2 linked regions of the Homo sapiens genome follow. The protein of the gene in region 2 purifies or fractionates together with the protein of the main gene of each other region. This does not show direct contact. Each region holds a gene or a part of one and is shown on either strand. Other genes may lie near its edges.

Region 1 (3,500 bases), on a different chromosome or scaffold from region 2:
TGAAACACCCATGTTAAGAAGATGAAAGGCAAGCTACAGAGTGAGAGAAAGTATTTGCAAACCACATATCCAACAAGGACCAGTACCTAGACTAGAGGAAGAACACTCAACAGCAAGGAAACAAACCGTCCAGTTAGGAAATGAGCAGAACTGAAAAGACGTTTCACCAGGAGAATGGACAAATGACAGGTAAGCACACGAAAAGATGACAAACGCCATCAGCCGCCAGGGAAGCCCACAGCCAGACATCACTGCGCACCTATCAGAATGGCTGACATTAAAAATAGCGCCAGCATGAAGTACCGGTGAGGATGCAGGGAAGGACACTGGATCACTTACGCATGGCTGGGGAGACTGGAGAATGCCACAGGTGTTCTGGAAAACACTTCAGCAGTTTCTTAACGAACTCAACATGCAACGACCAGAGGACTGAGCACTTGCACTCATGGCGGTCATATCAGAGTAATGAAGACTTCTGTTCACACAAAAACCTGTATGTGTCTGTTCATAGCAGTGTTATTCACAAAGGCCAGAAACTCAAACCGCCCAGGTGCCCTGCAGTGGGTGAATGCACAGGCTGGGGTGCCCCCATGCTGAGATACCATGCTGCAGTGAGAAGGAATCCATTATTAATACCTGCAGCAGGGCCCAGCACGGTGTCTCACGCCTGTGATCCCAGCAGTTTGGGAGGCCGAGGTGGGTGGATCAGCTGAGGTCGGGAGTTCGAGACCAGCCTGGCCAACATGACGAAACCCTGTCTCTGCTAAAAAAAACAAAACTTAGCCAGGTGTGGTGATGCATGCCTGTAATCCCAGCTACTTGGGAGGCTGAGGCTCAAGAATCACTTGAACCTGGGAGTCGGAGGTTGCAGTGAGCCAAGATCCCACCACTGTACTCCAGCCTGGGCAACAGAGTGAGATCCCGTCTTAAAAAAAAAATAATAGTAATACCTGCTTCAACCTGGATGAGCCTCAAGTGGATTATGCCGAGTGAAAAAAGCCACTCCCACATGATCCCCTGCTGTGCCACTCATTCATATAACACTCCTGAAATACAGAAATGGAGAAAGAGAATAGAAATTATCAAAGTTATAGAAATGGAGAAAGACTAATGGTTACCATGGAGTTGGGCTAATGTGCGGAAGTGGGTGTGTCTGCAAAGGGCACCCGGTGGGGTCCTAGTGCTGGCTGAATTGTCCTGTCTCTTTCCTGTATCAGTGTTAACCTCCTAGTCGTGATACTATCATTTGGCAAGATGTTAGCCTTGGGGAGAGCCGGGTACGGGGCACACAGGGTGGATCTGTATCATTCCGTACAACTACATAGGAGCCTACCATTATCTCAGAAGACAATGTTTAATTTTTCTTTAAGCACCAGTAATAATAATGGATATAAATGAAATATACCAGGATGTGAATGGAGGGTATTATGGTGAGATTTAGTTTTGTTCTTTTTCTTTGCTTTACTATTTGTATTTTATATTATTTTCTACCTTGAGAATATACTACTTTTGTGGTCAGGAGAAAAAGACAAGTTATTTTAACCAACTGAAATGTTTAAGAAGTTAAATGTGCATCAGCGCAGCCCTTGAAGGCAGGAACACAAGGCCCCGAGAGGTGGCGCCTCACCCAGGTTGAGCGGATCACGAGTCCTGACTCTGGGTCACACATGCCTTCTCCTTCCCAGGATTAGCACAGGAAACACTTCCCTCCGTGGAAGCAGCTCAGACTTGAGCGCTTCCCCTCATTCCCCGCCCCTCCCTGAGAGGCTGCCTTTAAACAGAAAGAACCACAACCAGCGAGCAGCCTCCTGGGTCCTGGGCTTTGGAGAGCCTCAGTCTTCTAACCTGTCAAATGGGGAGAACGGAGCACCCTGCAGCCTCCTTCCTAGGGACCCCATAACAAATTATCTCATGCCGGGTGGCCTGAACCCACACAAGTCTCCGAAGGAGAATCCATTTGCACCTCCTCCAGCTTCCAGGGCTCCCGGCACTCCTTGGCCCCTGACAGAGTCACTCCTGCCTTTGCCTTCACCTCCACGCAGCCTCTGTCCGTGCCCAAATCTCCCTCTCCTTTCTCTTACACAGATGCCTGTCACTGGATTTAGGGCCCACCCTAATCCAGTATGACCTCATCTTAGCTAATGACACCTGTAAAGACCCTATTTCCAAATGAGGTCACATTCTGAGGTTCCCGGTAGACGTGAATTTTGGGGAGACACTGACCAGCTCAATTTACCACATCTGTGGAGAAAGTTAAGTGAACAGAATTTACGTAAAAGTTTTCTATCAACTTACAACGTTTGGCTGGTATAAACTGAGAAGATGGCTAAGTGGTTAGTAATCACGCTGTTTCCTCCATCATCACTAGGAAACGGTTTCCTCGTGCCCCTGGTGCCGGCGAGGGAGGAAGAGGGAAGGGGAGGAGAGGAGGAAGGGAGGGAGGGAGAATGTGATCATGAGCCATAAATCGAAGAAGTTCCTGTTTCCTTCACTCAATCCCCCACCTCTGCGAGGGAAATGCGGTTATTGGAAGGTGGAAGGAGATGGTGGAGCGGCCTCTCTGGGTGACTCGGTGCCACGCGGGGATGGCAGTTGGTGGGAGCTCCTCTCTGCACTCACCCTGCCCCATCTCAGCGTCACTCCTGGTACCGCATGGTCTGAGAAAGAGAAAATTAAGAACCGCAGCTTCCCAGAAAGGAAAATCCTGCTTGGTTTCCAGGCAGGCGGCTTAGGCACTTCCAGATGTGTTCCTCTCCCCTGCCGAAACCCTCCTCGCAGTGGGAGGCCCCTCACCTTCCTGGCTCCATCCCTAGCACGGGCCTCTGTGGGTCTCCCCCGGGCCCTGACTGCCCCCCAGCTGCTCTCTGATGACACCCTTGGGCCTCTCCCTCTCCCTCTCTGCCGCTGGGTGATTGTTCTGAAATATCCCTTGGCCACAGCCCCTAGTTAAACCAGCTGCCTTGGTCAGCCCCATACTCCAGGAAGAATCTCCAGGGCAGAACCAGGCCCGGTCTCCTGTGGGTCCCCAGAGCCCACTCATGTCAAGGAAGGGAGGGCGGCAATGAATGAATGAGTGAGTGAGTGAGTGAGTGAATGAACCACTCTGGCCCCTCAGCTTCAAGGCCCACTCCTGAGTGGCCACATGGTGTTTCTCTGCAGGGTGATGTCCTGACTACCAAGTACCAGGTAGACCTTGGGGACGGCTTCAAGGCCATGTACGTGAACCTTACACTGACCGGGGAGCCCATCCGGCACCGCTACGAGAGCCCCGGCATCTACCGCGTGTCCGTCAGGGCAGAGAACACGGCAGGCCACGATGAGGCGGTGCTCTTTGTCCAGGTCAACTGTAAGTTTATTGCCCCTTTGAGGCCAAAGGTCACTCCCTTTGAGAGAGAGAACCTGGCTTTGGGGGAAACACAGGGAAGCCCCCGGGATTGCTCTAGGCCCCTGGTACTCAGGACGGTGAACCCGAGGGCAGGGAGGCAGGGAGGCTGGGCTCA
Region 2 (3,855 bases):
TGTGGCATCTTCTTTTAAATGAGCTTAATCTGACTTCCAGATCTGCTAGAGAAGTCCCGAGTTACTTTTCAGCTAAAGGCTGAAAGAAGCTACCACATATTTTATCAAATCCTGTCCAATAAGAAACCAGAGCTCATTGGTAAGACACATCTTTGATTTATTTCTACCAAAGAATAACAGCCCTTCTAAGAAGCCTCTCTGAAATGTTTTTGATGACCAAAGCAATGCTGTCTATATACTGTTCTTTTCCATGTGTTCAGAAATGCTTCTGATCACCACCAACCCATATGACTTCGCATTTGTCAGCCAAGGGGAAATTACTGTGCCCAGCATTGATGACCAGGAAGAGCTGATGGCCACAGATGTAAGTAATAGGTACAAAGTAGTAAAAAGTAAATTCATTTTCCAGTGTACAACACTCTCCTCTATTAGGGTGGAAAGCAGTGGCAGAAAGACTATAAATAGGTAATACAACCCTTTGGGCTTTCTTACTTTTGGAAAAAAATTGTAGGATATTTCAATACCCTCCCCCTACATGTGTTAAAAAGCTTTCACTGCCTGTAATAAATGTTGGGTCTTTAGTATTCCTTAGCTAGTAGGCTCCTTTCATTCTATCTTTCTTATTAGTCATTTTTGGTTGATATTTATGCTCCAATATTAATGTTTCTCTGCTATTTTATGCCACACCTCACACCCAAGATTCTGGGAAGGAGCTGCAATATTATTACAACTAAACATGGAACTCCCACTGTTCTTCTACAGTCACATGTAAACATAAGCCTTATTTTGAATAAACCTCTGTGGGCCAATGATATATCCCTCTCTACTCCCTAAGCAGCATTAGAAGAAGTGGGTTGTCTACTTCAAAAACACTCATTTTGGGGACTCCATAAGCCTTTATATTTATTTTTGAAACAACGCACTCTCTCCCCACCATCACCTCTTTTTTAAGGATTATTGCTTTTTGGCTTACTTTCTTTATATGTAAACTTTATGTATATTTCATGCTTTCTTTTGATTTCTGAATAATCTTCCTTATTTTTAACTTTAATATCAGTGGGACTATCCCAATACCCCCAAGTTAGAGTTGACAGTGCTTGCAAAACTGCTTTTTCTATTAAAATATTATTTTCAAGAAGTCAATAATTCATTTGTGTGGCTTTATATTATAAATATCAGCTTTAACTCTCTATAACTTATTATTATCTTTGTATGTCCAAAAGTGATAGGGAGTTAAGAAACACACCCTGGTCTGCGAGGTTAAAAAAATGTAGCAGTCTTGCTCTAAGACTTCCGTAATAATGTCTAGTTTCTGTAAATAGGTAGAGTTAGTGAGCTGGAAGTGGAAGTCAATAATCTGGGGAAAGAGTCTTAGGTAAGAATGGTAAATAAACATATTTTCCTCTGCCTGCTCTGAATCCTGCCCCCATTTATAAGCCTTTTCAAAGCCTATGTGGGCAACTAAAAAGGTAATCAAAATTCGATAGAGAAAAAAGACACAGAAATATTATACTAAATGGCAAAATTCCTTCTTTTCATAAATGTCTCTTCTCTGCATGAGAAATAAATAACTAGGTAAAGTTTGCTACCCCAGGCATCTCGTGGTCGCTGAGCTGTGGCTTGCTATCAGAGAGGCATGTGGAGAAAGACTCACAACCATTGCTGTTCTCCTCATACCCTCTTTCCAACTTTATCACTCATGCCCATTAGCAGGGGAAGGTAGACTGGGATTATGCATTAGGATAGGACAAATAGGAGAAGAAGGAGCAACAGAGAGACTCGTGAGACTGGAGAAAAGAAACAAAAATAGCCAAAAGACCAAGAGGAGCATGTGCCTGAGAAGCAAAGGGGGGCTGGGGTGGAGAAAAGGGGCAAAGCACTGGCCTTGGCATCAAAAGTCATGGCTCTTAGTCCTGGTTCAGTGAGTGTGGACAAGTCACATCATATGCTGTGACCAAATGGACTCATGACTCAAATGGAAAGACTGATGCATACCTCTTCGTGTTGCCATGTGGATCAAAAGGTAAAGCATATGAGTACCTTTTGAAGATGGCAAAGTGCTAGTCAAATATAAGGCAAGGCGTGATGAGAAAAAAGTGGGAGACAGCCCCGGTGTTCTGAGGGATTCTTCCATGGTGCTAATTGGGGATGAGCAAATTCAACTCTTTTGACAGAGTGCTGTGGACATCCTGGGTTTCACTGCTGATGAAAAGGTGGCCATTTACAAGCTCACTGGAGCCGTGATGCATTATGGGAACATGAAATTCAAGCAAAAGCAAAGGGAAGAGCAGGCAGAGCCAGATGGCACGGAAGGTACCACCCCCTGTTGGTATCTTCCACTTGACAAAGCTGACATAGTGAACTTTTCAGAGGCAGGGACCGTGTTTTTACTTTCTCTGACCTAGCTCGTGAAGGGCAAAAGTATTACGAGAAGGAAATTACACACTGCCTGACGTTTTACATTATTTAGCAGATTTGTGATTTCTGCTCATTCCATTATTCATTGGCTTTTCATAAGCTCATATTTGCTATTTGACTAAAACATATTTTATTTCAGGATAATCTGTGTGCCCACAGGCACTGAAAGAAACAGAGATCTGAATATTTCTGTCACTACTCCTCTAGGTTAGGGTTTCTCAAATTATTTTTATCTGTGGTCTACTTTTGCCAGGTTAAATATCACAGACAGCATCGATTCCCCAACCTCCAATTTATCATCACAAGAAATGACTAAAATTAGTGCAAGTGGTGGCAATGCTTTTGAGGCAATATGAACAAATGAAAAGGTTTCAATGACATTTGCACATCTTACTTTTTGAGTGAAACCTTTTTTCTTTGTCATCATCATTTACATTTTAAATTGTGTAAGCCATGGTCAGTTTCACCATTCTCACCTTGTTCACACAGTTGCTGACAAAGCTGCTTATCTGACAAGTCTGAACTCTGCTGACCTGCTCAAATCTCTCTGCTATCCCAGAGTCAAGGTCGGCAATGAGTTCGTAACCAAAGGCCAGACTGTGCAGCAGGTAAACATGACTTAAATTGTCTGATTTATTTGAACCGCAAGTGACTCAGGAGTTCATCACTGTTTTCAATTTAAAAAACTAAACTATCACTTCTGTTGAAGGTGTACAATGCAGTGGGTGCTCTGGCCAAAGCCATCTACGAGAAGATGTTCCTGTGGATGGTCACCCGCATCAACCAGCAGCTGGACACCAAGCAGCCCAGGCAGTACTTCATCGGGGTCTTGGACATTGCTGGCTTTGAGATCTTTGATGTGAGTAGTGAACTGACAGAAAATTAGCCAGTGCAAATCCTCTTGTTAGAGCATACAAAATCACATTTACAAAATGTACCTTACAAAATATACAAATGTAATTCCTACTGAAAGGAGTCTTTGAAAAGATATGAAAAGTAAATAGGTATAAATAGGAAAAGAGAAAATTCTATTCTTTTGAGTCTAGAAGTCTCAAAAGTTGATCCCTGAGAGGTTAAAATAGTCAAAATCTATCCTGGATCCAAGCAGATGAGCATGAGAACACCTTTTTAAAATTACTCTAAGGAAATATTTCAGAGTCCTCATTTAACAGTATTTTGCCTAGTATGCATGATCTCATGCAGTTACTTGGAAAATAAGTATTCAAAGAATCAATTCTACTTTGTTTAGAACTATATAATAGGAAAACAATCTGAAGGTTTATAATTTAATAAACCAAAATGCCTTAAATTCAGAAGAAAATACTAATAGATACTCTGTAGATAGAATACTTGTTATGCGTAATTTCCTATATTTATCTTGTTCTGTAGTTCAACAGCCTGGAGCAGCTGTGCATCAACTTCACCAACGAGAAACTG

The links. The genes of interacting proteins can lie anywhere in the genome.
Region 1: the proteins of MYH4 (region 2) and SORCS2 purify together in Homo sapiens (affinity purification with mass spectrometry; one large-scale study listed by BioGRID and IntAct). This does not show direct contact.

What each region holds. Positions count from the first base shown.
Region 1 is NC_000004.12:7,720,538-7,724,037, forward strand, and holds part of SORCS2 (VPS10 domain-containing receptor SorCS2), read left to right. Parts: intron 1-3,159; coding exon 3,160-3,346; intron 3,347-3,500. UniProt on the Homo sapiens protein: The heterodimer formed by NGFR and SORCS2 functions as receptor for the precursor forms of NGF (proNGF) and BDNF (proBDNF). ProNGF and proBDNF binding both promote axon growth cone collapse (in vitro).
Region 2 is NC_000017.11:10,459,374-10,463,228, reverse strand, and holds part of MYH4 (myosin-4), read left to right. Parts: intron 1-40; coding exon 41-139; intron 140-260; coding exon 261-364; intron 365-2,174; coding exon 2,175-2,313; intron 2,314-2,907; coding exon 2,908-3,026; intron 3,027-3,127; coding exon 3,128-3,277; intron 3,278-3,807; coding exon 3,808-3,855. UniProt on the Homo sapiens protein: Muscle contraction.